Regions from separate parts of the Homo sapiens genome. Here region 1 is linked to region 2. The links come from fine-mapping of genetic effects on gene expression. A gene starts in region 2. The other region holds a variant in brackets. All regions are shown on one strand. Distances are from middle to middle. Region 1 overlaps PLEKHA3 (pleckstrin homology domain containing A3). Region 2 holds the start of PLEKHA3 (pleckstrin homology domain containing A3).

Region 1 (16,228 bases), 19 kb before region 2:
GAACATAGTATTTAAATTAAATGTTCCCCAAAACACTTTGATTAGAAAATAGATTAAAATTTTACCTATGAAATAAATGCAGGCATTTTGCTTATGTAAGTCCACAACATTTTCTGAAAGGTGTACAACTATTTACAAGAGGTTATGGATACAGTGATGGGAATTTACCATAAAGAATGAAAATTTATTTTTTCACAGTTTTGGAGGCTGAGAAATCCAAGATAAGGCACTGGCATGTTAGGGCTCAGTCTCTCGCTTCCAACACTATGTAGAGCACTACGTCCTTTGGAAGGGAGAGACATTTGGCAGAAGAGCAGGAGAGTGTTCACCCACGCCCACAAGCCCTTTACACGGCGGCATTAATCTATTCATGAGGGTGGTACCCACATGACCTAAACACCTCCTGGTAGGCCCCACCTCCCAACACTGTTGCACTGGGAATGAAGGGAATCTACTATTTCTGTACTCCATGTATTAAGAGTATTACATCTACTGGCGGTAGGTAAGGCATAACAAACATCATCTGCATTATCTTATCTCCTATACTTCATATTTATATGATAAAAACAAAATATAATACCAATAAAGCTTAAAAGCACATCAAAATTGTTATACTCTTTTTAAAACTTTTAAAGTAACTATAACTGATTGGATTTCTTAAGGCTTGAATGTTTCTTAGAAAGATAACACCTAACACCTGAACATTTCATATGAAGTCTAGTTAAATGCAGGGTCGGCTGGGCACGGTGGCTCACATCTGTAATCCCGACACTTTGGGAGGCCAAGGCAGGTAGATGACCTGAGGTCAGGAGTTCAAGACCAGCCTGACTAATATGATGAAACCCCATCTCTATTAAAAATACAAAAATTAGCTGGGCATGGTGGCGAGCACCTGTAGTCCTAGCCTGTAGCCTAGGAGGCTGAGACAAGAGAATTGCTTGAACCCAGGAAGTGGAAGTTGCAGTGAGCCAAGATCGCGCCACTGCACTCCGGCCTGGGCGACAGAGACTGTCCAAAAAAAATGTAGGGTCAACATTATCAAACACTAGATTTTCCCATATATTAGTAATTCTTCCTATGGTGAAACATTTTCACTCAAGAATAAACAGGTTACTGAATTGAGAGAGATAGGAGAGTGCAGTGTGGCTCATGCCTGTAATCCGAGAATTTTGGAAAGTCAAGGCAGGCAGATCCCTTGAGCCCAGGAGTTTGAGATCAGTCTGAACAGCATGGCAAAACCCTGCTGCTACAAAAAAATACAAAAATTAGCCAGGAGTAGTGGTGCATGCCTGTAGTCCTAGTTATTCGGGAGGCTGAGGTAAAAGGATCATTTGAGCCTGGGAGGTCGAGACTGCAGTGAGCTGAGATCACTCCACTATACTCAAGACTGGGTGAAAGAGTGAGACCCTGTCTCAGAAAAAAAAAAAAAAACTGATAGTAGTAATAATAATAATGATAGTAAACAATATTAATAACTAACACTTATTCAACACACTACGTGCCCAGCACTTTTCTAACTGCTTTTTATGAATTGATTCTTCTAATCCTCACAACCCTATGAGGTAGGTAGTACAGTAAAACCATATGAATTAAAAATCACTAGAATGAATTACAAATTAATACTAAAGAATTTTTATTTTTTATACACTATTAGAATTTAAATCTAGACTTTCAGTGAAACATACAAACCAACCACATGAATTTATTTCCTCTACCTCCAAACCACCAAAAGATATTAAAGGAATATAAATAGTATTAATCCACAAAAAAGCACAGACGACAAAGCCATGAGATTTTAACAAAGTTTATACAGATAAAAACCAGGAGGAAGTGCAATACCTAACCTAGCAGAGTGGAGGAAGTTAAAGCCTAAGTACCCAAAAGGGAGAAGCCCAAAAACACACCCCACCAAACCTCTACTAAGTTCAGGACTTGGAAGCACTAGGTATTGTAGAAGATGAGAGTGAGGTATAGGGCTGAAATCAGGACTAGAAGTCTGTATAAAGAGCAACTGGAACCCAGGTCCTCTCCCCTACTCTCCACAGCCAGCCTACGCCCCACCCTCAACCTCCACTGACAGGAAAAACTGAACCTGAGGGTCAGCAGCCAGAGGAGGATTTGGGGGGTGGGGCCGGATGGGCATGAGAGAGGATGAAGATAGAGGGATTAAGTAAAAGTCATCATACAAATCTTGGGGTCCTCAGCTGTCTTTTCTTACCCTACTATCAGGACCCAGTTTTCTAGAGAAACTGGCCCCAAAGAGAAGACCTCCACTGAAATTTAGGGGACCTCAACAGAAAAGGCCAACTCTACCTGATGGCCCTTTAGACAACTTATAAACCCTGCCCACATATAAAGACCTATGACATTAGCTTTTTAATACATGACTAATATGAATAGATGATTTCTAAGAAAGGCTTCAGAATGAAAGAGCCCAAAACAAATAAATAGAAAGCAGAAACATGGTGGGGGAGGGGGAGAACCATTCAAGAAACAGGAAAGATGTAAGAAAAAAATCTTAATTTTATCCTCAGGGAGATATGGGGAAACAGTTAATCTATAAAATAAAAATAGGTTTTTATGAAATGAAACAGAAAAAAAAGACCTCTTAGAAATTAAAATATATATATAAAGAAAATTCAACAGAAGAGCTGGAGGATAACAAAAAGAACAAAGATAATATAACTTAAGGAACAACTAGAGAGAAAAAGCTTTTTAAATTTAGAGGCGGTCCAACTCTGGGAGGTCCAACATTCAAATAACAGAAATTCTAGAAAGATAGAACAAAGAAAATGGAAGAGAGAAAACTGTCAAAAAGATCACACACACACACACACACACACACACACACACACACACCCAGAACTGAAGCAGACAAATCTCTAAATTGAAAGATTCCACCAAGTCAAGTAGCCATCAAGATGAATGAATAAAGACCCACATATTATTATGAAACATCAGAAGTAATGAGAAGTTCCTAAAAGCTTACAGAGTGTAAAAACAGATCCCAGGTAAAGGAACGGTATCAGAATTCTCACAGAAAAACTAAATGCCTTAAGACAATGAAATGTTGCCCTTAAAATTCTGAAGGCATGTTATTTTCCAGACTCCAAACTACCAATCAAGAGTAGAGACATTTTCAGACCTGTAAAGCCTTAAAATCTTTACTTTCTATGCACCTTTTCTTAGGAAGTTACTGGTGGAGGAGCTTTGCCAAAAAAAAAAAAAAAAAAAAAAAAAAAAAAAAAAAACCTAATGTGAGACTAAAAACTAAAGGGAGTTTCAGAATGACTGCTGAACCATAGAACAGGCCTGGAGGGCAACAGTACAAATGGCAGAAGATGAAGGACTGTGGAAGAAATGTCCCTAAAGGATGACAAAATATTTTTAAAAACTTTTTTAAGAGAATTGATACGATTATCTGATGTTTTTCAGCATTTAAGCCTTTGGATAGTCATTGTGACAGGTACATTAAAAACTAAGCAAATTTGAAAATCAGGCAATACCAACCCCAGAAAAAATAACATTCTAGTAAAAAGGAAATAATGATAGTTAACCATGTGGTACATCAGTGAACTACATTTATGTCTATCTATTTCACAAAAAGTTTGTTCTAACTAAAAGTTGTGTGAATATAAATCTATTTTGGGAGGGGTGGGGGAAGAAAAATGTGGGAGGTGGAGAGTTTAAGTAAAGTAAATCCTGTCTACCATAAAAGGTATTCGAGAAACTGTTTCTGAAATTGATAAGTCAACAAAAAGTAGTATAACATTTTCAAACAGGAAGGTAAATACTAACACAAACCACTAAGAGTTCCAAGTGTTTGTCTTTGGAATGCTAAACTGGGGAAGAGGGAACTACACTTTTTCACTATAAACCTTTTAGTTCTATTTGATTTTTTCAAACTATGTACATTAACTAGTTTAATAAAAAGAAAGCTAAAATTAAAAAAAAAACAACAGAATTTCAAGTTAAGAATTCAACATGAATTCAAAGAGTGGATTGGGGAGACAGAAAGACATGAACAAGAAGGCCTACCTACCAGCTACCTACCATTCATTTACCCGCCAGGGTTATTAAAAGACAGACCTCCTCAAAGGAACTCCTGCAGCCTAATCTGGCTTTCTTTCAGGCCAGGACACTCCCTCTGTACCAAGTACCCAGATCAAGGCTCAAAGTACAGACCTAGAGGTGCCTTATTAAATAAAAGAACTAGCAGAGTCCAAATTAGTGGTATTATCATGTATATGGAATTAGTGTAAACAGCAATCTGGTATTAACATATCACAAGGGCGCATTTCCTGAGATCTTGTGATTTTTACATTTCTAAATGTGATAATACATACTGAAAAACTACAATTCAAGGTCAAAGGTTCTAGGGCATCTGTGGAAATGAAGATACTCTATCTTCTGCCTTGGAATTTAAGTTTAAGCAATAGCATCCATTTCTGGATTTTTCCTGACTGAAGATCATGCAATAATCCCATATGATGTAAGAAAATTCAAATTCAGCTCATTTATAAAAGAATTGTATCAAAATCCCTTTAGTCATGGAGGCCTGCGATTCCCAAAGAATAGTGAGCAAGCACTTGAAATGAAAAACAAGCACTGCTTTTGCTTAGAAGATCACTGATAGGCTGCCAAGAGAACCTCCAAATTTCTCAATAACTTTTCATGTTTCTCAATAACCCCATGACCTAGACAAAGCAAAAAAAAGGGACTACTAATAACTAATAATAACCAATAATTTTTCTATAAAGTATAGAACAACTTGACAAGCTAAAATTCTTACAGAATTGTTATATGGTTCATCTTTTTCTTAAAATTCAAAAAAGTCAGGCACACTTGAAAATAAAGGACTCCTCAAAATGCAAGGTTCCCTTAAGCTTTATAGGTTTCTTCATGCTACTAATTCACTGATCAAAACCTGGATATAATTCAAGATATATTTATACTCCCACAAAAAAAATGATTTCACAGATGTGTTTGGTTCCTAACAATAACAACAAAAAGTGGCTCCAAGTCATAACAAAAGACATACTTAGGGATACCGCAAACCTGTTCAAGGACCTGTTTTAAGGGGGAAAAAATGATACAAACCAGAAATAATTGCATTGTATTTTTAAAATATTCACAGAAAACTCTTCACGAACCCATCTATTTGGGTAAAGCAATAGAAAATGGATGTGATTATTTTCTATAAGTTCAAAAGCTTGTTACGGTGTTTTCCTTATAAACCTATTACTGCAAAAAAACTCACTACCAGAAAAAACTCCCAATCAATAGCACCCTGACCTTCATGGTCTTAATACTGTGCAAGTTCTTACTACAAAATTTAAAAAAAAAAAAAAAACAAGAAAAACCTGATTACCTGCTCAACGTCATAACTTACTACATTATCAAACTTTTTTTTTCAAATTAGACATATGAAGTACAACTTATGAGCAGGCAAAGACTCCACTGAATATAGAGTAGTCTGATGACCTGTGTGTTATTTAAAATTACAAACACTTCAAGTAGCATACAGTTTACCCAAACACATATTAATGTATAGACTGTTTATGTCCATCTTAAACTTAAGATGGAAGGCCTATAATTACAGTTTTTTAAACAAATACCAAATATTAATTATTTTAAAATATCCCACATAAACTTACAAGATAAATTGAAATAAAATGAAATAGGTCACACCATTCTAAGCTCACAGGCAACAAAAATTATGCTTCATTTGTGTCTTCACCAGCAGGCCTAAATATACAAACAAACTCAAATCCATTAGAATTATATTAGTGCCTAATAAAGATTAGACAGAATATCAATGAATGTAAAAAATACAATGTATTATATGATGTGTTTGAATGCAAAAACCACGCATTTATTAAACATATGATTAACTTAAAAACAACACACCAGTTTGTTTTAAAGTGCTCCTTATCCAAAACCTTAAACAAAACTATCAGCCCAAAATGAATTCAAAAAAACAGATTACAAGGCAAACAATGACAATAGGTATGGACAGGCACTACCAAAAAATGCTATTTGTTCTTTAATTAAATAATGCCATTCTCAAGTGATATAGAGCAGTCATCTTGACAGAATTCCTTTTTGTATAAATATTCATAAATAAAAATGTCTCTAGATATTGGAAAGAGCTGCAAACAATACTTTACAACAGCAGCTTAATATCTATTTTAGGAAAAAAAAAGCACTAAAATTCTCTTCCATTGAAAGTTGTTTATTTCTCTAGTGTAAGTGAGCAAAGTCACTACAGCATTAAAATCTCTTTTCTAGAACAACGTAAAGAACAACGTATACACATCTTAAATTTGGTAGGTCACAAAAGTTAGAATGCAATCATCTTTTGAGGCAACAAGAAAATAAATACATAAAAATTAAACACTTTAACCCAAAATTTGGTATTGACAAATCAGTAGTGTCAACTTCACATATGAAGGACAATACAGTCTGGTTATTTAAAGATGCTCAATATGTCATGGTATTTGGGCTAAAGATACTTAGAATATTGTGTTTCCTTTTTGATTAAAGGAATACAATACAATCACCATCAAGCTGCTATCGTAACTCATTTTTAGCTGTGGTAAAGTGACCATTTGGTCCATGGCACAAGTTACATATATCACACTTCTGTCAAACTGAAACCTTATAAGATTTCATGTTTATAAGCTACAATACACCCTGACCATGCTGTCAGTCCCCTCAGAGTTTTTAAGAAAAATATCTACATTTGTCCTTATGGATGTCAAAATGTTACACCATCATTTGTTCAAAAAAAAAAGATGCACATTCATACTGTGAAGTTATTAGGAAAATACTCTTGCAAACAAACTATATAAAGATAAAATACACTTCAAAAGTATGTGGTTTGTTTTCTTGTTTGTCTGTTTTACAACATTCTATAAAGTGCAGAGTCCTAAGGGAAAAAACTACTCCCTATAACAATAGTTTAATTACAGCAGCTTTTGCATAGCAATACTTAGAGGAAGTTGGACACTTCAGTTTCTTCAGGAAGAGAAGGATGGAAGAGTATCTTCTGATTCAGATTGTTTTTTGGCCATAAGTCTGCTTTCTTCAGGAATGGTTGCTGATGCCAAATCTCCATTAAGTGTATTTTTTGAACAGTGAACAGGTCCTATGAAGACATTGATAAAAACGTTAAACATCCTGTCAATATTAACTCCAGTCCTCTGTGAAAGAACATTTTAAATTTCCTGTTCAGGGACATGAAATTCCTTTAGCTTCTGGCTAATTTTGTATTTCCTTGTTTGTTTCATGCAGGAAAACTTAACTTTTAGACTAGAGTATCAACAGCCACAAGGAGAAACATCAGAATTCATAAGATAAATGATGAAATTGCCTGAAGTAGAGATTTTTGTTTTGTTCACTGCTAGAATCATGGTTGGCACATAATAGGTAGTCAATAAATATTTGCTGAATTGAATTTAATCTTTATTAATTAACTATTGCTTTTTCAGCCTATTTTAATGCTGTTAATATCCTCCTTGTTCCTAGGCAAAGAAACCAAGACCCATAAAAGGATACATGCCTTACCCAAGATCACACAATTGGTAACAGAACGAGGACTAAATTCAGGTATTCCTCTTTTCATTCTAAGACTTTCTGAGCAAAGCTGACAAGGTACCTCATACTGAAAGATCCCATTTCTCCATTTGTAATGCAGCTCACAGAACTATCACTGCAACTCCATGTTAACACAGCTGACTACACTGGCATAGTCCTGTTCTAAGGCAGTTGTACCTTTATATATATAGTTTGAGTTTACCATCATCATTTATTACTTTCATACTTTTTGAAAAAGCTTGTTAAAGAAAATAGAAGCAGTTGCATCTCACAAGAAGAATATTTTTGAGTAACAACTTTCAACTAAGACTGCCAATTGCAAAATATATACTTTCTGGAAAGAGCACTAATTCAATCTTTGCTTTGTCAGCTAATTGAAACACTAAACTAGTATAAACAGGAAAAAATCTAAGGATAAAATTTCTGACCTAGTCTATACTTGCTAATTTAAAGATGTTCTAGAGAAGTGAACTATAT[G/A]TATGCGCGTGTGTGTGTGTGCGTGCGTGTGTGTGTGTGTGAGACTAGTTTTGTTACAGTCCATAACAGTTAAACTGGGGGATGCTAAATATAATAGAGCATGTACACCTAGATCTTTTGAAAATTGTTTTCAAATATTCAGGACTAGAGTAACTAGAAGAAAAGAATTCTAAAGAAAAATGGATGGCTTTAAAAAAATTATTTTAGTAATCACAAATGATCCCCTTAAAAAAAAAAAAAGATGTCGCACTTAAAACTACAAGGTAGCATACAGAACTCCTTCATGAACTCTGGATTAAGAGTCATGTGTAAAAGGCATAAAGAATAAAGAGAATCAGAGTCTATCTTACCTGCCTCAGATAACTTTTTTCACATACTCAACCTCTTTAACCCTCCTCCTCTCCTCCTCTTCTCTTCCAGGTCTTGCTTGATTGGCCCAAGAAAGTTTCTTTCTCCCTTCCCCTTCCCGGTTTCTTTCCTTCATTTCTCCACCCACATCTCAATTTAAATTCAAAATGTTAATGAGCATAGAATAGTGCCATATATTAATAAATAGATGATTAATTCAGTTTAAAAAAAAAGTGGGCATTAAAAAAAAAAAAAGATTCTATCAACTCCTAAAAATCCAAAAATGACCAGCAATCCTTTTTAAAATTGCCATATGTATGAACTAAACCTGTTTAACTTTCTGGTTACATAAAACAACTCCAGCTTAATCAGTGTTTTCAATACACTCAAATGCTAGAAATACACCATTGTTTTGTCCCATTTCAGCCATACTATGAATTCACTGGGCTCTTCCAAAGAATGGTTAGCTATCCAAAGAGCTAACCACCACTTATCATGTCATTTCCACAAGAAAAATAAAATCTGTTTTCCAAACAACTGACTTACAAATGAACTAACTATTGGAACACGACCTGTTCCTTAATTGGAAATTGTACATAGTTTCTATCCCACATGCTTCCTGAGAAATAGTAGAGACTTGGAGAGTATAAGTCTATTAATGGAGATGTAATAATAAGACTATATTTGTGTTCACTGCAAATCATGGTCACTACTATCTTACTAGATATTCTGACACACTTTCAAAGCTTCTTCTCTGAAGAGAAAAATTTAAAAATTTTAACATAAATCACAAAACCTTTCCTAAAAACATTCAATCACAGTATGCTGCCTCTTTAATAAGGAAGAAAAAGGTAGAGGAATGAATGCTACTATAATTCACTGTGACTACCAGACAAAATTCTTTTCCTTAGCCATTTCTAGGTATTTTAGTAAAGTAACAATGCTGACTTTTATATGAACTTGGAACTTGCCTTTATTTTCCCCTAGAATCCTGCTAACAATTCATGCCTTCTTCTAAAATGTTTTTTAAGTCCTAGTGGTGGTAAAAGATCATGATATTCTATAAATATATATCTGAGATACGATATTTACAAAGCAATCCTCAGCACTCCTTAGTTAGTAACAAACCTGTTTGTAAGGGGATATATGAGCTTTCATTGATTGAGCGCTGTTTGCTTACCTCTGAATTAAGGAATCAAAGAAACAAAGTACAATGTTCAGTCAGTATACTTCATTTCCAGAAATTACAGAGCCCCACAGTAATTTTGCTGAATATGCCAAAGAAAGAGACAGAATCTATGTCACTTACTATCTGGGTCTTCAAGAGGAATATCACTACAAGAATCTGTATCTGAGTAGGTTCTTCGGCGTCGCTGGGAGAGTCGGTGAAGTGTAGATACTGGTTCTTTTATAGAGTGGCTACTCCTGCAAATTAAGTAAAAAGCATTAAATTGTAAGGCCTTACATAAACAAAAACACACTCAACTGGAATTTTAAATGACTTCTCTTTAAGTGAAAAAAGAATTATTTTTATGCTCAACGTCCCGTGTTAGCAACATTCTACTCAGAAGTCAAAAACAAGTGAACCCATTTAGAAGACAGCTGGTAACCTGGAGAATATGGCTTCTGAGCTGAACTAAAAGGAAGAGGGGTACAATGAAGAAGTAGTGACTTCTGTAGGGGAGACTCCAGAGAGCAGACATATCAGTCGGTTTACAAATGTTTGAAAACTAGAAGTCATAGGTTTCATGAATGCATGTATTTTAAGTCAATCCATATCTGATCAAAACCAGCAGACTGAAAGAGATGGGCAAGGAGTTCATAGAGCTAGAGGTAGACTCACTGACAACAGCAAGAGAAGATAAAGATGGCAAAAAGGGGCCTAGAAAAACTCTTTTAAAAATCTGTCTGAAAAATTTAAACAGAGAAGCAAATCACCACCACCTAACAGCATCTCAGCTACTATTTTTGTAACAGCCCAACTTTACTGTACTTAATGACAACCTTGATTCATCAGGAAACAAATAAGATTTTAAAATTATTATTTTATGAGGTAGAAAGGATAGAAAAATTTCTTTCATAAAAATAAAAGTTGGTCAAAAATTGATTAAGCTTCCATTTTTCTGGAAAATTCAGTTGGTGGGACTCTTGATTCCCTGACAAGGTTGGATATATACATCATTGGATTCCTCTGAGTATTTGACAGTTTAATCAAAGATTATACAATCATCAGGGGAAAAAATTAAAACATGACAAAACAGCATTTAACAGTCCAAATATAGAGAAATAAATGCCAATGTCACTATAATTAAATCACTTTCCAAAGAACTAAATAAGACAACCATAGCAACTTAAAGGACTATTACCTAACAAAATAATAGTTTAACAACTTAGCATTTTGGTAAGATCTATCCAGAAGGTAAAATTTTTAAACGTATTGATATGAATATGTACTTTAAAATATCAAGTGGTTTTCTCTCTTCAGCAAGATCTTTCTCTCTTAATGAAACAACAGCTCAGCATGAATAGATGATGCTATAAACAGCTGAGGTAAAATGAGCCCTAGCTGTGGAGTCTCAACACATCAAAAATGTACTTCTGTCTAACCATCACTTGATATACAGTCATGCGTCTCTTAATGACAAGGATGCATTCTGAGAAATCCATCGCTAGGTGATTCTGTCACTGTGCAAACATCACAGAGCGTGCTTACACAAAACTAGCTAGTATAGCCTACTACACATGTAGGCTATGTGGTATAGCCTATTGTTCTTAGGCTACAAACTTCTACTGCATGTTACTGTACTGAATGTTGTGGGTGACTGTAACAATGGTATTTGTGTATCTAAACATACCTAAACATGGAAAAAGTACAGTAAAAATATGGTATTATAATCTTATGAGGCCACTGTCACATATGCAGTCTATCATTGATGGAAAAGTCATTCTTCAATATATGACTGCATTTCAAACATCTAAAAAAGGTAAAATGGCTGGCAACGTGCTTACCTTGCTGGTTAATTCATTCATTTTTTTCTTTACTGACTACCTACTGAGGCCAGGCCCTTATACTAAATACTAGGAGATAAATACTGAGAGATAAAATGCTGGTTTTGAACCAGACCTAACCCATACAGAGTTTACATTCCACACCACTTGTTAAAGGCCCAAAGAACTTCCCTAGATGGATATAATTTGAGAGAACTTAGTCAGAAGAAAAGGTTCTTTTACCTCTCTGAACTGCAAGAACCAGGGTGGCTGACAGAACGCTTCATCTAGAAATTTTGGAAAAAAAAAAAAAAATTAGCATAATCCATATGTCAAGTAGAATCATGCAGCTCTAATTTACTATTATCATAATAAACATAAATTTACTCAGAGAAAAAGATAACTGGCAAAAAAAAATTTAATCTTTCACAGACTCAAGCAACATAATTAGTACAACATCAAGCTTTCTCCCTAATAACCATTAATTGGAATCTTTTTCAACACACACCAAAAACATGCTGGATTCTTTTTTCAAAAGTGAAAACCAAATTTTATACATAATACATATATATGTGTGTGTATACAAATATAAAAAACAGGGTATATAACTATAAATAAGATATAAATGTGATAAAAAAGGAGTATCTAGCAAGCCACAAAATATTCTAATAAATATCTCTTTTTTAAAGGACAGTAGTAGAGTCTGGCAGCAAAGCTTCTCTTTATCATTAATTATTTAGGTAGCTGATATACAAATGTTCTAAAGTGTGGTTTTCATGGAAAACAGCATTAATAATTCAAGACTTTAAAGAACTCAGAAGAAGAACCCTAAGTCTCAGTGGATTTCCAAAACATATATTTAAAAAAATAAAGAATACCTAATTAAGCAGAACATTTAAAAAATATGATAAATACTAAACATAATTTGGAAGATCCAACTACTCCATCAAAATATAAAGGGAGGCAGCCAAGTAAAACTGATTATTTCAAAGTTTAACATGGTAGCAGAAAAACAAAGATTATACTAAAGGTTTAGGGTGGTTGCTTTTGTATACATGAGCCCAAGAGTCTAACAAGCCCAGGTCTAACATTGATGTTATGCAAATGCCTTCTATATTTGGAACATGAGCCACTAGTTGCTCTGAGAAATACCAGTTGAAATGCTAAGAGATATGACCCACCCAGTTTGTAGTCTGGGAACATCTGATAAGATTGACATTAAGATGCAAATGGCCACTAACATCTCCTTTAACAGAAATTACTTCCTTTAGGCTTACTAACCCAAGGACATCCCCACTATAATAATCACTCAATCTGTAGGTCCAGTGATGGTTGTCTGAACTTTTATGACAACTTGAAATAAAGTTAAATGCAAGTTTACTCTAAGATGAATTCATTGAGATTAACTATATAAAGTGCTTATAAAGATCAGATTAAAGCACTTACAAAGATCAGATTAAATTGTTTTGGAATACTCAAATTTTCAGCTTTATTTTTCATATAAATAAATGTAAGTTTTTCATATAAATAAATAAACAATGTTATTTAAAAAAAAAACATGAAGATTGTCTGACCTTACTTTCCATGCTATTTGTCTCTAGAACTAATAATTATTTTAGTTTCTTATATGTAAAATACGCATTGACTTCTCTGGACTACAGAGCATTTGTAACATAAGGGATTTCCTGAGAAGTTCAATGCAGAAGCAAGGCAACTCTGAGGTGTTTTACTGCATTTGACTCTAAAAAGTACAGCTTAAAAAAAAAAAGTGTACCCTTTGTCTATCAACCTCAGGAACACAGCACTACACATCCATCTCAAAACACTGGTTTCTTTGTTCACACATACTTGTTAATTAACAGTTTATAGCATATCTACAATTGTCCTAAAAAGCAACATTGTCAAACTATGTTTTACTCAACACCACACCACAGTCCTGTAAGATGGTATTAAAAAATACATAAAATGGGCCAGGCGCAGTGTCTCACGCCTGTAATCCCAACACTTTGGAAGACTAAGGCGGGCAGATCACGAGGTCAGGAGATCGAGACCATCCTGGCTAACATGGTGAAACCCCGTCTCTACTAAAAATACAAAAAATTAGCTGGGCATGGTGGCAGGCGCCTGTGGTCCCATCTGCTCAGGAGGCTGAGGCAGGAGAATGGCATGAACCCAGGAGGCGGAGCTTGCAGTGAGCTGAGATTGCGCCACTGCACTCCAGCCTGGGCGACAGAGCAAGACTCCATTTCAAAAAAAGAAAATATATACATATATAGTATTTATATATATATTTATTTTATTTGTGTATATATATAACGGGCTCAATTGTCAAATAAATTTCAGCAACACTGTACACTACACTTCCACCTCTCAGAGATTCATAATACACTTCAGCATAAAAGAGGGTGTGACGGCTGGGCATGGTGGCTTATGCCTGTAATCCCAACACTTTGGGAGGCTGAAGCAGGAGGACTGCTTGAAGCTAGGAGTTTGAGACCAGCCTGGGCAACAAAATGAGACTCCATCTCTACAAAAAATAAATTTAAAAACTTAGCTTGAAGCCAGGAGTTTGAGACCAGCTTGGGCAACAAAATGAGACCCCCCCCATCTCTACAAATAATAAATTAAAAAACATAGCCAGGCACCGTGGTGTGCACCTGTAGTCCCAGCTACTCAGGAGGCTGGAACTTGGGAGTTTGAGGCTGCAGTGAGTTATGATGGTGTCACTGCACTCCAGCCTGGGTAACAGAGTGAGACCCTGTCTCTAAAAAAATAAATAAATAAATAAGTAAAAAGGCTGTGACAAGTCCCATCAAACCCAATTCATATCATTTAAGTTAACCTAGCAATTCCCAAATTAATCTGGCCATAAAACTCATTTTCATGGTACGCTTGCCTCAGAGGAAACTATTAGCCCATCAAATACTGATTAGAAAACAATTCTCTAAATAAATCTAGGCAATAATCTTTACTAAATCTCATAACTAAATTTGCTGGGATAGGTAAGAGAACCTAGGAAGAAGTTAGACCCTATTCTCCTAACAAATAGATCTTCAGGTAATTGCTGAAACAGCAACAAGGTGGCATTCTTACTCCTATAAATGGACTCCTAAAAACACTTTGATGCAATAAACTTGAAGTCTCATTAAAGCTTATCTCACCTACAAATTTCTAACAGCATGCTAGAGCAAATTTATTAGCTCAGAAAGGACAACGAATCTGCCACCCCTGGCAAAAAGAGGACTTGTTCTGAGCAATAAGGAAGTAAGAAACTAACACTGAGCACCTAACAGTAAGCAGGTCAGATCGTTTGCAGTGACTCTCTGATATACACTGTATTTTTACACATGAAGAAACTGAAGATCAGCTACTCTGAGGGTTCAGATCCAAATGCTTAGTAGAGAATACCGTTCCCACCGGAATATGTTTCAAATTCCTTCTAACTCCTTTAAAGATATACGTAATTGTACCCCATTGTGACTAAAATCTCATTCCATTGTGTAATTCTTACCAAGCAGAATAGAGCTCCCCAACTTTTTCTTTGTCACAGCACTTTGTAATATTTTCCTAGACACTGGGGAAAATGGATGAAGCAGCCTGTGGGCAGGCCATGCACAGCCCCTCCAAGGAGAAGGGAATGAGGACACTAGCACAAGTGCTCAGCTCATCAGCTAAGAAGCTCGAATATGAAACAGTACAAACAAAAAAATTCAACTTGTTAGCTGTTCCCCGCCCCCCAACTGCCTGCTTCCACCCTTAAAAATAAATACCAAAATGAAACGAAAACCACATGCAACATTACTACTGAGGGAAAAAACCAAAACAAGAAGTTCAAACCATTTGAACAGGAGAAGGTGACACAGGAGAAACTAAGGGATCCGGATGGTGCAGTTGAAACATCTCAGGTTTAAACTTGGCATTGGCTATCTTCACACATTCCTCAAGCGTTGTGATGAATGTGTTACACGTGGCACTAAGCAGAGAAGAGGCTTCATTCATGTTCTGAAAAATTACACAAAGACTTGAACAGATTTGCATACAACTACATGGAATCATATACAACCTTATCATTAAATAATAAGACATCTCCAACAGACACATTACTATGTTATGTTCAAATTTATTTAAAATACAGTACCTTAGAAAATTAAGCTGGGGCAAAAAAAGAAAAAAGAAAACATTAAAACATCTATGTATAAGAAATGCCTGTCTCCTAAACAATGTATGAAACTAGATTCTAAGAAAAAATAAGCTTTGCATTTAATTATCATATTGAAAAACTGTGTACAAAAGTTTATCTTAGAGAAATCTAACCTAAACAGTAATTTTCACTTTCCCAAAAGTGGACACAGACATGGAATACCCTTAGAGTTAATTAGTGGCAGTACAATTCATGCCTACCCTCTATCCATTCTCCCACTTCTTCCTTGATAGAGTAAAAAGCCCAATTTTGTTCAGGATCGCAAAGTGCCCTGATCCTGGGGGATGAATAGAGACTGATCTAACCTAGTCATGGCTATTCCAACACTCTTTACTAAATGCTCATTTTTTCCTAGTTTCCTTTGAGCCGGAAAAAAAAAAAAAAAAAAAAGATGAGAAGTTGGCTAGGGAATTTCTGGGATTTTTGTTTCCCGATTCAAAACCAAGCACAGCAAGTTGAGAAGGACTCTCTCTACCCTGGCAACCCCACTGCCTCCTGCCTCTTTGTGAGCTTGACAGTCATCTTGACACCTGGGGCATTAGGAGAAAAACTCAACACACCAAGAATGGCAGAGTGGAAGGATGGAACAAGCCTGGGTCCCTAATACTGTCACTG
Region 2 (14,910 bases):
GGATAGATACTAAAAGTGGACAGGCTAATTTAGTTACATTTATATTTATATTTAAGAAAGTACTCTCACCACAAGGGAAAAGTTTATAGTTACCTTTTTCTTTTTTAGTCCTTGTATCAGTCAAACATGCTTTGGAGCTCCCCAGAGCGACCAGCCACCTCTGTCTTTCAGCTGCATTCACTGCCTTCATGTAGAAATGCTGCTCTCCAGGAATGATTAATTCCATTCTTGTGTTGTCTGCTGAATGAACTATGATGATAAACAAAGGGGAAATACAGTTATAGACTTAAGTAATTTAAGGGTAATCAAATAATCATCTAATCACACAGTATCAGATGCTTCATATACCAAAAACATTGAACTATCATTCATGATGCAGGCAGTGCTGCTCCCTGAGGGGCCACCCAGTGGCACTCCCCAAATCAACATTCTCATATAGACCCGGGGTAACAATGGTGCCAAAGCGATGACAGAGTATGAAAAAGAAAACAGGGACATACTAACTACTGAGAAGTGACAGCCCTCCCCCACCTTGGGGCCACTTATCCTATTAAATACAACTGCAATGAATGTTACACTATCACATATTTTTTACTGATTTCCTTGAAAACAAAGTCTTTGTTTTCATATATAGTGCCTGACACATAGAAGGAATGTAATAAATGACAACTACAGCCACCTTCTGTCAGAAAAGTAACTCTATGATATGCCCTTAATTATGGATCATAGCATAACACATGGAAGGCATGTATATTTTGAAGACATTCATCTCTTCCCCTCTTTCTACCTCTTCTCCTGCACACACACACCTCCTTTGATGCTCTGAGAAAAGAGAGCTAATCAGGAATTATGATGAGCCAATCCCAAGTCTTTGTTGTAAAACAAAATTTGTGTTAAGCTGTCATTCATCAACAAATATTTACTCAGCTCAGAGCAGTGCTAGTAGAAGAGAAGATAGAGGGGAAGAAAAAAGGTGTCTTTGCTTCTATACAGTTGACAATTTAACCAAGAAACAAACTGACACACCAAAAACAATCAGAATACACATATGTTTAACTCTTTGGTGCAGAGATTTCTTGTGTAATTATGAGAGAAAGTAATTTAAAAAGGCTTCAAGAAGAAGGGTTTGATGAAAGCGGGATTTGGTTAAGAAAATGAATGAGAAGAAGCTTAAATGAGAAAATAAACACAGAATGTACTGAGAATATTAGGAAACAAGCATAAATAGAGGCTTCCATTGTAATGCAAAGTAATATTCATACTCGTTTAGCCAGTATAGTGGTGCAAGCATGTACTCCCAGCACCTGTAGACCCAGCAACTTGGGAGGCGGAAGGCTGAGGCAAGAGGATCGCTGGAGCCCAGTACAGGCTGCAGTGAGCTACAATCATACCACTGCACTCCAGACTGGGCAACAGAGCAAGACCCTGTCTCAAAAAAAAAAAAAAAAAAAAAAAAGAAGGAAAAGAAAAGAAAACAAATTCATATTCATGAATGGACAAGCTGGGAGGAGCCAAATTATGAGGGTCCCAGCAAAATCTGGCAGAAGCCCCAACTTAAATAATTAATTGCTATAAATATTGACCAGATGTTTAGTGTATTATGGCAAGTAAGTGCCACAGAAATGTTGCTATCTTATTATTCTACTTATATGGGTCATTCTTAGTTGCAGACACTGAAACATACAACCATGCAACAATCAATTATGAATGCAAAAGATTTCTAGGCTAGGGTAAAACTACTGAACTCCTAAAGCTATAAGAGTAACTCTTCCTTGCTACTTGCCAATACTAGTGAAAGCACCAATACCTACTTTAAAAGAAAGCAATGCTCTAATTTCTAATGATGTTGCTACAAGATGAAACTAAAATAAGATGACTCATTTTTAAACATACCAGAATTTATGCATCCAATCAAGGGTGGTCCCCTCCAAAGTTGTCACCTGAAAAGGCAACAAACTTAAAAATGATGCTTCCAAAACATCAGAAAAGATGGACAAGACCTCTAAACACAAAACTACAAAACATTACTGAGAGAAATTAAATATCTAATTAAACAGAGTTAATGGAACAGAAGACTCAATATCATCAAGAATATAATTCTCCTCAAATTGATCTGTAGATTCAACACAATTCCAAACATTCCAGCAGATAGCTGTGGAAATTTATAAGCAAGTTCTAAAATCTGTAAGGAAATGCAAAGGGCTTACAATAGCCAAGACAGTACTGAAAAAGAACTAAAGTTAGGAGACTTTGGCTATCAGATACAAAGAGAATAAAGCTAAAGAAATTAACACAATGTAATATCTGCACAAGGATTAACAACAACAACAACAACAACAAAAACAGGGCCACAGAACAGAATAGACAGTCTAGAAAAAGACTCACATATACATGGTCACTTGCTTTGTGACAAAGGTATCCCCATGGGGGAAAGGTTGCTATTAAGTCAAGTACAGACCTACTATAGACCTAAATATAAAAGGTAAAACAATAAACATTCAAGAAAGTAACACAGAAGATGTCTTCAGTGGGTCATAAAAGGATCCAATAAAAGAAATTAACAAATTGGATTTCACTGAAATGAAGAACTTCTGTTCCTCAAAAGGTATCATGAACAAAATGAAAACATAAACTACACAGTGGAAGAAAACATCTGCAACACAAAGACTCAACCAGACTATACAAAGAACTCCTACATATCAACATGAAAGATAGCCAAAGTTAGAAAATGGGCCAAAGACTTGAAAGAGGACTTCAAAAGAAGACAACATTCAACCCTTTTTTTTTTTCCTTTTTGTGGAGACAGGAGTCTCATTTTGTTGCCCAGGCTGGTCTCGAACTCCTGAGCACAAGCGATCTGCCTGCCTTGGCCTCCCAAACTGCTGGGATTACAGACATGAGCTAACACTCCCGACAAGAGGACATTCAAATGGCTAACATCTAAAAAAGTATTCAACATCATTAGTTATTGAAGAAATGCAAGTAAAAAACCACCATGAGATACCACTACAAACACCAGAAATATTCCGAATTTTTTAAATGGATAATACCAAGTTTTGGCAAAGATGCAGAACAACTGGAACCCTAATACTCTGATCGATTGCAGAAAAAATTTATATAATCACTTTGGAAAACATCTGGCATTATCTGTGAAAAAGATTATTGGCCAGGCACAGTGGCTAACACCAGTAATTCCAACACTTTGGGAGGCCAAAGCGGGCAGATTGCTTAAGCTCAGGAGTTCAAGACCAGCCTGGTTTTTGCAACACGGTGAAATCCCATCTCTACAAAAAACATAAAAATTAGCTGGGCATAGTGACATGTGCCTCTGGTCCCAGCTACTCAGGAGGCTGAGGTAGGAGGATCACCTGAACCCAGGAGGTGGAGGCTGCAGTGAGCCATGATCACACCACTGCATTCCAGCCTGAGCAACAGAGTGAGAACCTGTCTCAAAAAAAACAAAAAAAGAAAAGAAAAGAAAAAAAAGAAAAAAAGAAAAAGATTCTCTTCTTGACCAAATTTTAGTCAGGCTCATTTGAATCCTGTACTCACCTAGGCTTCCTTCTCCATCCTTGTAGAATCCAGTTTTAGCAAGAATCCTACTAAGTCAGTTTAGCCAGAATCCCCTAACACCATATTTCATCACCCGCCCTTGATATCTGACCACATTCTTCATTCCCTACCATTTCCCAGCAATGTCTGATCACCCTGGCCTCAGCCTGCCTTCAGCAAGAATCCTGTTAGGTCAGTTTAGCCAGAATCCCCCCACTTACCTTTTAGTAACTTTCCCTCCACTGACACTGTCTCCCCCTAACCCTGCTCCTTGGCTATAAATTCCCACTTTTCCTTGTACTTGGAGTTGAGCCCAATTTCTCTCCTCCAATGCAATAGTCCCTAAATCTATCACAATAGTCCTAAATAAAGTTTGCCATACCATTTCAACGTGTCAAGAATACTTTTTTCTTTAACATCTATTAAAGCTGAAAGTATGAATATTCAGTGCCTTAGCATTCCACTCCACTTCTAGAGATACACTAAACAGAAATGCACACATATGTTCAATAAATGTGTAAGAATGTTTATGGCAGCTTTAGTCACTGTAGTCCCAAAACGGAAATAACCCAAAAATCCTTCAGTACTAGAATGGATACCAAAATTGTGAGATATTCACACAATGGAATACTGTACAATGAGAATGACTGAACTACTGTTACACAGAACAATATAGATAAATTTTACAAACATGATGTTGAGTAAAAGAAGCCAGACACAAAAGAAAATACTGAATTATTCCATTTATAAAACATTAAAAGACAACACTTATGTATGGCAATTAAAGTCAGATTAATCGCTACCTTTCAGGAAGACTGTTTGATAGCTATGACCCAGAGCTCACCACGTCAAAGGAAACACACTTCATGAAGGACAAGTATTCAAGCTAGAGTGGAGAAATGAAAACGACCAGGAAGGAGTTTAACAGTCACTCCCCTGGTGCTCTAGTTTTTCCTTCACTCTCTTTGAAGAATTCAGTCCTTTTCACTGCCATTTTATCTGATTTCGCCTCCACCCCACACACTCCAACCACACACACAAATGAATCAATGGTCCATAAAATCTTCCTTCACGAAAATTACAGCAGGACCTATTGCTTTATTTCTCCCCTTTTGGAAGAAAAGGAAACCATCTCTATCACCCAGAGGAACTTACCTCCAAATTCAGCAAAGAACCAGAGTTTATGACTCCAACTTCATACCTTATCAAAACCCTACAGAGCTGGCCCCATCATCTTTAGAGTTCAGCCTCCAACTTTTACAATATCTTTCTATTAATTACAACAATAATGAAATAGAATGCTTATAGACTGAAGGTGGACACTAAAGTAGTATCCACAAGAAATTGTTTGTCAAATCCAAATTGGAAGACTAGCAAAAGTTATTTCCATTCAAAAATACATTTGTAGAGGGAGAATTATCAAAAACTGTGTTTAATTGTGTTAACTGTGATGAAATGCCACTCCTGACTGCTAAGGATATAAATGGTATTAGATGATCCCTACGTGGTTAGAAATGCTTTTTTTCCTCGTCTGGAGTATGCTGAAGAACCCTTGACTATCTAACCTCCAATTCCTCTAATTCTGTATATTCACTTACCTTTAATTTCACAAACTGCCATCTTTATGCTTCCTTTGCTCCCTTTGCAAACATCATCTTGTGAATCATAGTAGGATAAGATTCCATTATCTAAAACAAACCAACGAGGCTGCCAGCCTAAAAAGACCATAAATAACAAAAGGTCAATTGGAAACACATTACTTTCACCACATAGAAAACTGTGATTTCAAAACCTGCCATCCACATTATTTCTTGGCTCTCAAATAACATTCCGATAATGAAATTTTCAATCACCAAGCCTTACCAAAAATGTTTTTGCATCAGTCTCCACTTTATTGGGAGAGGTTTCTGGAGCAAGCTCCAGAGCAGCAAAAACACGGGGAGTAATACTTCTAATTCTAGCTCACAGTGTTCTCATTAACAACCCATAAGGCCCATCCTCAGTAATAGCCCTAAACCGGGTATAGCATAACTGCCCTCTTTTCCTAAAAAGGAACAGAGTTGGGGTTACGATATTATGGGAAAAGCCACAGAAGACAAGGGTTCTAGCCTTACCTATAGTATCATTCTTTAATGGATAATCATACCCTGGGGACAAATCTTTTCATTTCAATAAATCTCTAAAATTCCCAGTCCCTAAAATGTGTAGGTTGAACAAGATGACCTCTCAGGTGCCACCTAGCCCTCTAATTCTGCAATGTGCCTCTTATAAAATACATATTTCTAAGCAAACTCCCTTAAACACAATGAGTGCTAAATGAATTCCAGTCTCTTAAATAGAAGCTACATACCCTATGGTGAGAACACAGATTCCCCATATGACCCCCTCTTCCCTTGTCTGCAGTTGCACAGCTAGGGTTGAAATCCTAGAAACTGCAATTGTTCGATTGATATTTATTCAGTGACTAGAGCTCACATCTATCACAGACTTGGCTCCATGCCAAAGCTGACGACAAGGATGATGACTTTCCTTGGCACCCAATTCCCACTCCTCTTTGAAGCCAAACTTGGTGTTCCCCGGAGTCTTATCAAGCATGCTACTAATTTACAACAGTTCACTGACTATTAACATGGTGACCATGCTGGGAGCAGTGTGACTGTCCTTGTTCTTTCCATGACTATTAAATAACAATTCAGCACAAATATTCATGGCTAAAATGTACATTTTAAACCATGGATGTTCGTATCCCGGTCACTTTTGCCATAGCCTGCCACATGATCAATTTGATCTTTCCAGGGTCAGATAGTGCCGAGAGGGGAGATGGGTCAGTCATCCTTACACTTTAATACAGATCCAGGACTTAATTCCCCAAAAGGATTTATCTGTAACACTTTTGAAATGACAACACTGAGTCATCAAAAAGATTAAATTTTACTTTGTAACCCTGTTTAGGAAGGCAGGGAATGCAGTAATACAGTTCAGAAAGAGAGATATCTAAAGCAACTAAAAACCAGCAACTTTCAGGTTCCTGGAAGATTCCTTTTTATGAAACAACAGAGTATTCCCTAGTGAGACCTAAACAAATTAGAAGGTAAGTTATTTTGGTACATGGACTTTATCTTGTTCATCACTGCATTCCCAGCAACTAGAATGGTGCCTGGCACATAAGAGGTACCAAAAAAATCTATTTCTCAAGTGACTGAATAAATAAATGAATGAATGAATACCCCAAAAGTGAGATATTTCAGGGATTGTTGCTGTTGTTTTGTTTGGTTTTTTGAGACAGGATCTCACTCTGCTGCCCAGGCTGAAGTGCAGTGGCATGAACATGGCTCACCACAGCCTCAACCTCCTAGGCTCAAAAGGTGCTCCCACCTCAGCCTCCCAAGTAGTTAGGACTACAGAAGTGCCACCATGCCTGGCTAATTTTTTAATTTTTTATAGAGACGAAGTCTCATCATGTTGCCCAGGCTGGTCTCAAATTCCTGGACTCAAGTAATCCTGCCATCTTGGCCTCCCAAAGTGCTAGGATTACAGATGTGGGCCATCACACCCTGCAGATATTTCCTATTAACCATGAGAGTATAGACATACAATATATCTTTGAGAGTATATTGTATTGATCATGCATGGAAATGATAAAAACATTATCTTTCCAAACACTAATTTACCTTGCCAAACAAATTATAAGCAGGGGGTGGTGAAAATACATTCCTCCACCCAGGTCTAGTGTGCCTATAGGACAAATTATGATTTTGCAAGCCTGCAGTACTGCAATTCAATATCTCTTTAAAACAAATATTGGGCAAAATGATTCATTTAGAATTTGCAGCAACGTGAAAGGTGAGTGGTTGAACACATTAATATAATCAAGCCTGTTAATTATCTCTACACACTTTTTGAAGAAATATTTAATAAAACAATTTCTAATTGGTTCACACACTTATATAACAGAGGGTAATATCTGTGAAAAAGATTCACAGGTATTCCCTTTTTAAAATTCTTTTTTTTTTTTAATTCTTTTTATCTCAAACTACAAAATGTTACTGAAATTCTTACTCTCTACAAAGGATTCTCAAATAACACTTTTTTTTTTTGAGATAGAGTCTCGCTCTGTCGCCAAGGTTTGAGTGCAGTGGTACAATGTGGGCTCACTGTAACCTCTGCCTCCCAGGCTCAAATAATTCTCATGCCTCAACCTCCCAAGTAGCTAGGACTACAGGTGCATGCCATCATGCCTGGCTAATTTTTTGTAATTTTTGTAGGGACAGGGTTTCACCATGTTGGCCAGGTTGGTCTCAAACTCCTGACCTCAAGCTATCTGCCTATCTCAGCCTCCCAATGTGCTGAGATTACAGGCATGAGCCACCGTGCCTGAACAACACTATCATTACACTTAAAGATCACTTAGTATGAACAGCTGCTCATTCTTATGACCTAAGATGAACTAAAATTAATAATCAGCACACCATCTACCCAAATTTAACTTTTAAAAATAAATTCTTCCAAACAAAAGATTTCTTTTCAACCAGCTTCTACAATGCATACTAGAAGTTGACTAAATGCCCTGCAAAGACTAAAATCTAAATCACATGTGATTAAAAGCTCAACCCCTGGTTATTTAGTACCATAGGAGATAAGGAAATCGCCACCAAGCCCAGGTTTCATCTCAACTCTTAAATTATGACTCATCTCAGTAATGGCCCAATGGTTCCACAACACCATGCTTAGGAACACTTGCAATGAGATGAGCATTTGCATCTCAAAGCATACAAGCTAATGTCTTTTTTTTTTTTTTTTTTTGAGACAGGATCTCGCTCTGTTAGCCAGGCTGAAGTGTGTGGGTACAATCATAGCTCACTGATCCTAGCTCACTGCAGCCTCCATTTCTCTAGCTAAAGCAATCCTTTCGCCTCCGCCTCCTCAGTAACTGGGACTACAGGTGTGCACTACCACACCTAGCTGTTTTTTGTTTTTGTTTTTGTTTTTTTAGTAGAGACCACGTCTCCCTATGTGGCCCAGGTTGGTCTTGAGCAAGCAATCCTCCCACCTCCGCCTCCCAAAGTGCTGGGATTACAAGCATGAAGCACTCTACTGTCTTTAACAGTTAACACTATACCTCAACCAAACAGTATAACTGCTCTCACAATGGCCAAAATGAAAATGCCCAATAAAAAATATTTATCTAACTTTTAAATGTTTCCCGTTAAAACATGTCACTTATAGAAATAAATTGAGTTTTTAGTTTGAACAAAATAAAACATCTGTGTATCATAAATGTTAAAAGCATTTGCTGCTACAAATCTGGCTTTAGCATTCTAATAAATCAAAAAGCAGGTATAACTGTAGCTCAGTGCTTATGCCTTAAAAAGTTTACCTGCACATTTTGCACAAGATCAGGTGGACACAAGTCGAGAGTACCACACAATTACTGAGGGATGTGATACTTTTGGCAGAGCGAAGAAGTGGGCAGCAAGTCATGATTTGCCTATTATGCTAGACCCCCCCCCCCCAAAAAATCTGTTTACTGTTCAAATTTATGTTAAAACCATCTTCTCACTTAGTGAGGTCATGGAATTCTGGAGTTGGAAGGCATCCCGGGGCAAAATAACTAATCACCCTGGCCTTATCAGACTGAGGTCCTGAAAGAATAACTGACTTGCCTTCATTGTTGGTTGATGGCAGAGATTGGACTACAACTCAAATTTAAGGAGCTTTTAAATAAGCCTACAGGCTGCCAATGTCATGGTAAGGGGCCCTTTCCTGCTGGTCTCTCATTTCTTCAAAGTTTTTCCTTCCAACCCACTTCACAGGTGAAAGTGACTTGCCTGTTCCCCTTCTGTGTATTGACACTTTCTTCCACTATTTCTCAGTTAACAGAATTCCCCAACGTAAGGATACTTCAATGACAATCCCTAAGAGAATATTATCTGGGGACAGCTTCCAAAATCATGCTCGCTAAGCTTGAACAACCTCAACAAGACAACGTTTTAAATAAAATGTTAAGGAAATTAAAAGAAATACAAAAAAGAATTAAAATTAAATCTTGTAGTTGAAACAATTAAAGGGTCCATTCCAGTCCAATACTCCGACAACTCAGTTATTAACAAAATGCTCTTAAAGTATGAATACTAAGTGTGAATAAGGACGGAGATCGCAACAACACATGTAGGGTGACTGAGAATTGTTCCTGAGGCTACAGGAGGCAAGGATTAGTATTATTACACTAGCAAAGAAGTGGCAGGTGCACTTCCCACCCTCTAGAAGGTGCGCAGCCTCAAACCCTCCCCTGAAGAGGCCAGAAGGACTCAACAAGCCCTGGAATCGAGTAGAGCGAATTCGCTCTGAGGGTCCGCGGAGGCCAGACGGAGGAAGAGGAGCCCCGACCCGCCTTCTCAGCAGCCCCCCGCCTCTCCCCTCTTCCCTCATCACACGAGCCCCCATACCTGTGAGATAGTTGGTCCACTTGTACAACACCCCCTCCATGCTTCAGAGCCCCACACCGCGCATCCTCCCGGCCCGGCGCCGGCCGCGGTGATGGGGTAGGCGCAGGGCCTGGGGCAGCCCCTCCCGGCCCGCCCGGGCCCCCTCCGCCGGCACGAAGCCGCTTTCTGCCTGCGCGCGCCGCAGGGACGTGGCGGCCTTTAGAGGCCGGGACAGCGGGCGCAGCGTGGAGCTTGGGGGCCGCGAGGCGCGGGCCCAGACATTCCCGGGTAAGCCTCGGCGGCGGCGGCCGCGACAACGGCAAAAATGCGCCCGCGACCGGCCTCCTGCTCGCGCTTCCGCAGCCCGGCTGCTCCCTCCGGCGCCCCGGCGCTGCCTCTTCCTCGCCTGCCTTCCTTCCCCCTGGGCTCCCCGTTTGTTTTCATTGACCCCGACGTCGATTTCACTTCCTGGATGAAAGGGGCCGGATCGTCCCGGGAAACCCCTCCCCGGCGGCGGGGCTGAAGGAGCGGGCGCGGCCTGCGGCCTCGCCGCCTAGCCGGAGGCTGCGCGAGGAGGGCGGGCCGGCGCGTCACACCCTCGGCCTGCCAGCCAGGGCCGCCTTTACTCCTCCCACGGGCCGGTGGCCAACAGTCCCGAGGCTCCCAAGTTTCCCCTTGGCCGCCAAGGCCCAGGCTGACCGCCCCCGGGGGACAAGACCTTCGAGCTCCGCTGCGCGCGCAGCCCCGGTGCCTACCTAAGGAGGAGCTGCCCGCACACTCATCCCGCGGGCACTTAGTTCTCTCGGGTTTTCCTGGGTTTTCTTCAGAAATACATAATATCCTGTTTCTTCATGAAATCCTGTTTTTATTTTACATAAAATCCTGTTTTTTCTTCAAAAATACATAAAAGCCTTCCTATTTCTGTTTGCTTCGTATTTTCCTCATATTCAAGGGGTCTGAAATTATCTCCTAGGAAGGCAATGTGCAGCAGACGGGGTCCTCTGACAAGGAATGGCGAGGGCCCCCAAGGAACTGTCATCACGCCGATAACCTTGGATAGCCACAATTTTATTTAGAATATAAAACATGGAACTCGACTTCGGAATTTTAGTCTAGAAATGGGGACTTCCCCCTAGCTTTTATGATTTTTGAAACTCCTGCTTGGACGCAATTGTCATCTTGCATAATCGACAGTAATTTTCAGGTTTATGGAATTTTGCAAACTTTAAGCAAAGCACATCAATCAGGCTCAGTGCTGCGGCTTTTCTTCGCATCACCGAGGTAGAATAGCACCTCTACTCCCAGAACTTAATCCAGGCGAATGCAGAAGGCCTTTGCTGGTTTTCTGGTTTGGGTAGTCTTTGGGTATTCACTTGGAAACAAGGCGAATTGATGGATGGATAGAGTGATGGATGGATATGTAATAAATATAATATAGTTCAATGACAGGATCCAGATGGTGGGTGTAGGAGAGTTTACTGTAGAATTCAACTTTCTGTGTATTTTAAAGGTTTTCATACTAAAATTGGTGGTGAAGTGGTGTTGTCACACAGATTTGACCAAATCCCTGCTGCGTATTAGCTGTGAGATTGGGACAACATGCCCAATACTCAAGTTTTCTTGACTGATGTGGACAATTACGTATCCCATGGGATGGTACAAAAAAGTCAAAAGAACATTCCCCGCACTACCAGAGGCCCTCGAATCAAGGGCGGCCCCGAGTGGCGGGGAAAAGAAATGCAAGCCAGCGGAGGATGCTGAATTGTGGAGGTCGGCTCTCGGAAACGCCTGCAGCCAGGCAGAGGAGTTGCGGTACCGCAGTTTCGTTGCATCGGGCTGGCCTTCAGGTTGTGCGACTCAGCCTGGAACCTCTGAATGCAAGATTCCGACCTGAGAATGCGCTTCAAGGACACCTCCGAAGCACCCAGAAAGCCACCGCCAGCCTATTTTTTACGCTCCTTTTCCAGCATGCCTCTCCCTCCCCCCAGTATCTATCTGCTCGTTCCCTAGGGGTCTTAGAAGCCTTTTGCTTCCAGAAATGACAACCATATTCCCTGACTCTACGACATCCCAGGCTGTTTATTTCGTCTTATGCCAGTTTCATTTTAGAAAATGCGAATGTTGTCACCGAACCCTGAGGAAACCTGCTGTAAAATACGCGGGTTTAGCGAGAAGAAGCGGAGCGAGTGTGCGTTGCGATCTTAAAGACTGAGGACAGCCAGCCCGAGGGCCTAGAAACAGCGTTAACCGCGCTGAGCCCGCTGCGGGAGGCGGAGGGGTTGGGGCCATGAGAGGGCGGGGCCGCATCTATGGCCCCGCCCCGGCCCTTTGTGACGCAGGACAACGCCTGCCACGCGTCGGAACTCGGCCGCGGGACATCCACGGGGCGCGAGTGACACGCGGGAGGGAGAGCAGTGTTCTGCTGGAGCCGATGCCAAAAACCATGCATTTCTTATTCAGATTCATTGTTTTCTTTTATCTGTGGGGCCTTTTTACTGCTCAGAGACAAAAGAAAGAGGAGAGCACCGAAGAAGTGAAAATAGAAGTTTTGCATCGTCCAGAAAACTGCTCTAAGACAAGCAAGAAGGGAGACCTACTAAATGCCCATTATGACGGCTACCTGGCTAAAGACGGCTCGAAATTCTACTGCAGGTAGGAAATGCTGCGAGCTGCCCGTGCGTCCAGTTGCACAAAATCTTGCCTGCCTCCACCAAGCGGAAGCCTCATTGGTTGGTTGGTTGGGGTTTTATTTTTTAACGGTAAAAGTTGAGCCCTTTATTCATTAAAAAAAATCACATTATATGGCAGTGTTTCTCTAATAAACTGAATATTTTTATTTAAAGTATTGAAAATGTTGTGGCAATAAATTATCAAAAATACGATACATCCACACACACATCAACCACCACCATTACCCTTGGGACCTCCAGAATTAAATCAAGGTTCTGCCTATAAGGATGTTCACATTTTTCCCTTGCCAGAAGTATTGAGTCTTTACGGAGGAATACATGGAATAAAGAGATTTAATTCTGGCCTTCAGAAGCACGATTTTTATAGGTTGTGGCCACTTTCTATCAAGAAAAACAGTTACTTCCCTGGTGACTTCTGGTGGGCCCTGCTCCCTCATTCCACCTGGTGCCTACTCTGATTTAATTGATGGCTTATTACTCAGAGGGAGAATCTTTTCTTTACCCTGTAAAGATAGGACTGGGAAAAACAGTTCCATCCATTTAGAATAAAATAGAGAAATTTAATAAGAATTTATACAATTTTATAATTTAATAAGAATTTAATAAATTATATCATTAGAATTTAATAAGAAAATATACCATTTTAAATTACTATTAAAATGACTTTTTGAGGCTAAAACTGCCCTATCATTTTTTTACAACAAACCCAGGGAGTTAAATGAGTTCTTTGTACAAGCCATGCACCTAGTTAGGGGCTGGAGACCCATTAAAAAGTTAACTGTTGAATAGTTTTTGTAAAGATAACAATTTTAAAAAATGAGATGGCTGTTAATGATTAACTTTGGGCAAATCATACTTCTTTCTGGTGATTATAGGGAAGTTTGAGTCAAACACCCCATTAAGGGTTTTAGAAAGAGTGATTATATGGGAATGATGGTTAGAGAGGACTCCAATTTTAAATGCCCAGCTGTATTTTCAAGTTTGATTTCTTGAAATCAGTTTACTTAAGTATTGCTTTTTGTTATAGCCGGACACAAAATGAAGGCCACCCCAAATGGTTTGTTCTTGGTGTTGGGCAAGTCATAAAAGGCCTAGACATTGCTATGACAGATATGTGCCCTGGAGAAAAGCGAAAAGTAGTTATACCCCCTTCATTTGCATACGGAAAGGAAGGCTATGGTAAGATGTTTAATTTTAATTTCTTGTTTTAGTTATATTTAAAAAATGATTAATAGATTTCTGGGTATATAGGTCTGAAAGAATTGAAAGCACAGTCTCAAAGAAATATTTGTACAGCCATGCTCATAGCAGCCATGTACAATAGACAAGAGATGGAAGCAAGCCACATGTCCATACATAGAGAAATGGATAAACAAAATGAATACATGCATATATGGAAGCCAGGCACAGTGGCTCATGCCTGTAATCCCAACACTTTGGGAGGCCAAGGTGGTAGAATCACTTGAGGCCAGGACCAGCCTGAGCAACAGCAAGACCCTGCTCTACAAAAAAAAAAAAAAAAAAAATGAAATGGAATATTATTCAGCCTTAAAAAGGAAGAAAATTCTGAGACATGCACCAACATGTATCAGCCTTGAGGACATTATGCTAAATGAAATAAACCAGTCACAAAAAGACAAATACTGTATAATTCCATTTATGTGAGGTACCTGGAGTAGTCAAATTAATAGAGACAAAGTAGAAGGGTGATTGCCAGAGGCTGAAGTGAGAGGGAAAAGGGGAATTGTTGACCAATGGGTATAGAGTTTCATTTTTGCCAGATGAAGAGTTCTGGAGATTGGTTGCATGGTAGTGTAAGCGTACTTTACTGAACAACACACTTGAAAATTGTTATGATGGTAAATTTTATGTTATGTGTATTTTACCACAATTAAAAACAAAAAAGTGAAATAAAAAATGATAGATGAAATAAAGAGAACAGTAAAGCCCAATGACCTTAAGCTCTATCTAGTTCAGTCCAGTCCCTTCTTTTTGCTTATAAGGATAATATGACATTGTTTGAATATAGATCTCTGGCCAGAGTTCTTTCTTCTACATTGTGGCAACACTCATGATGATTATATATATTCTATAAGCTCTACCTTAAGCATTTTTATTTGTTTTCAGCATATGTTATTATTACATAAATATTTATAACACAGATCTTTGGTAAGCAGTACCAAAGTTAAATTCATAAAACTCAGAAACTGGAACATGTAGGTTTAGAGTAAAAGGACAGGACG

Evidence for each region. PIP is the estimated chance that this variant, and not a neighbour inherited with it, causes the effect.
Region 1: its variant is fine-mapped to the expression of PLEKHA3 in whole blood (INTERVAL, PIP 0.98).

The regions. Positions count from the first base shown.
Region 1 is chr2:178,494,682-178,510,909 of GRCh38, reverse strand. PLEKHA3 (pleckstrin homology domain containing A3) reads right to left here. Exons shown (of 8, transcript NM_019091.4): 5 at 15,250-15,414; 6 at 11,656-11,699; 7 at 9,734-9,849; 8 at 1-7,150. The coding sequence ends at 7,023. Among named protein-coding and RNA genes, the nearest start is that of TTN-AS1, 20 kb to the left of the region's middle. The variant G/A (reference allele first, on the strand shown) is at 8,077.
Region 2 is chr2:178,475,998-178,490,907 of GRCh38, reverse strand. It overlaps PLEKHA3 (pleckstrin homology domain containing A3), which reads right to left and starts at 10,451. Exons shown (of 8, transcript NM_019091.4): 1 at 9,999-10,451; 2 at 5,151-5,267; 3 at 94-249. The coding sequence starts at 10,038. FKBP7 (FKBP prolyl isomerase 7) reads left to right here and starts at 12,308. Exons shown (of 4, transcript NM_181342.3): 1 at 12,308-12,629; 2 at 13,695-13,846. The coding sequence starts at 12,409. It overlaps LOC124907911 (a long non-coding RNA gene), which reads left to right and starts at 9,210. Exons shown (of 2, transcript XR_007087320.1): 1 at 9,210-9,300; 2 at 9,426-9,563. RefSeq lists an enhancer at 8,424-8,473 and a silencer at 10,058-10,697.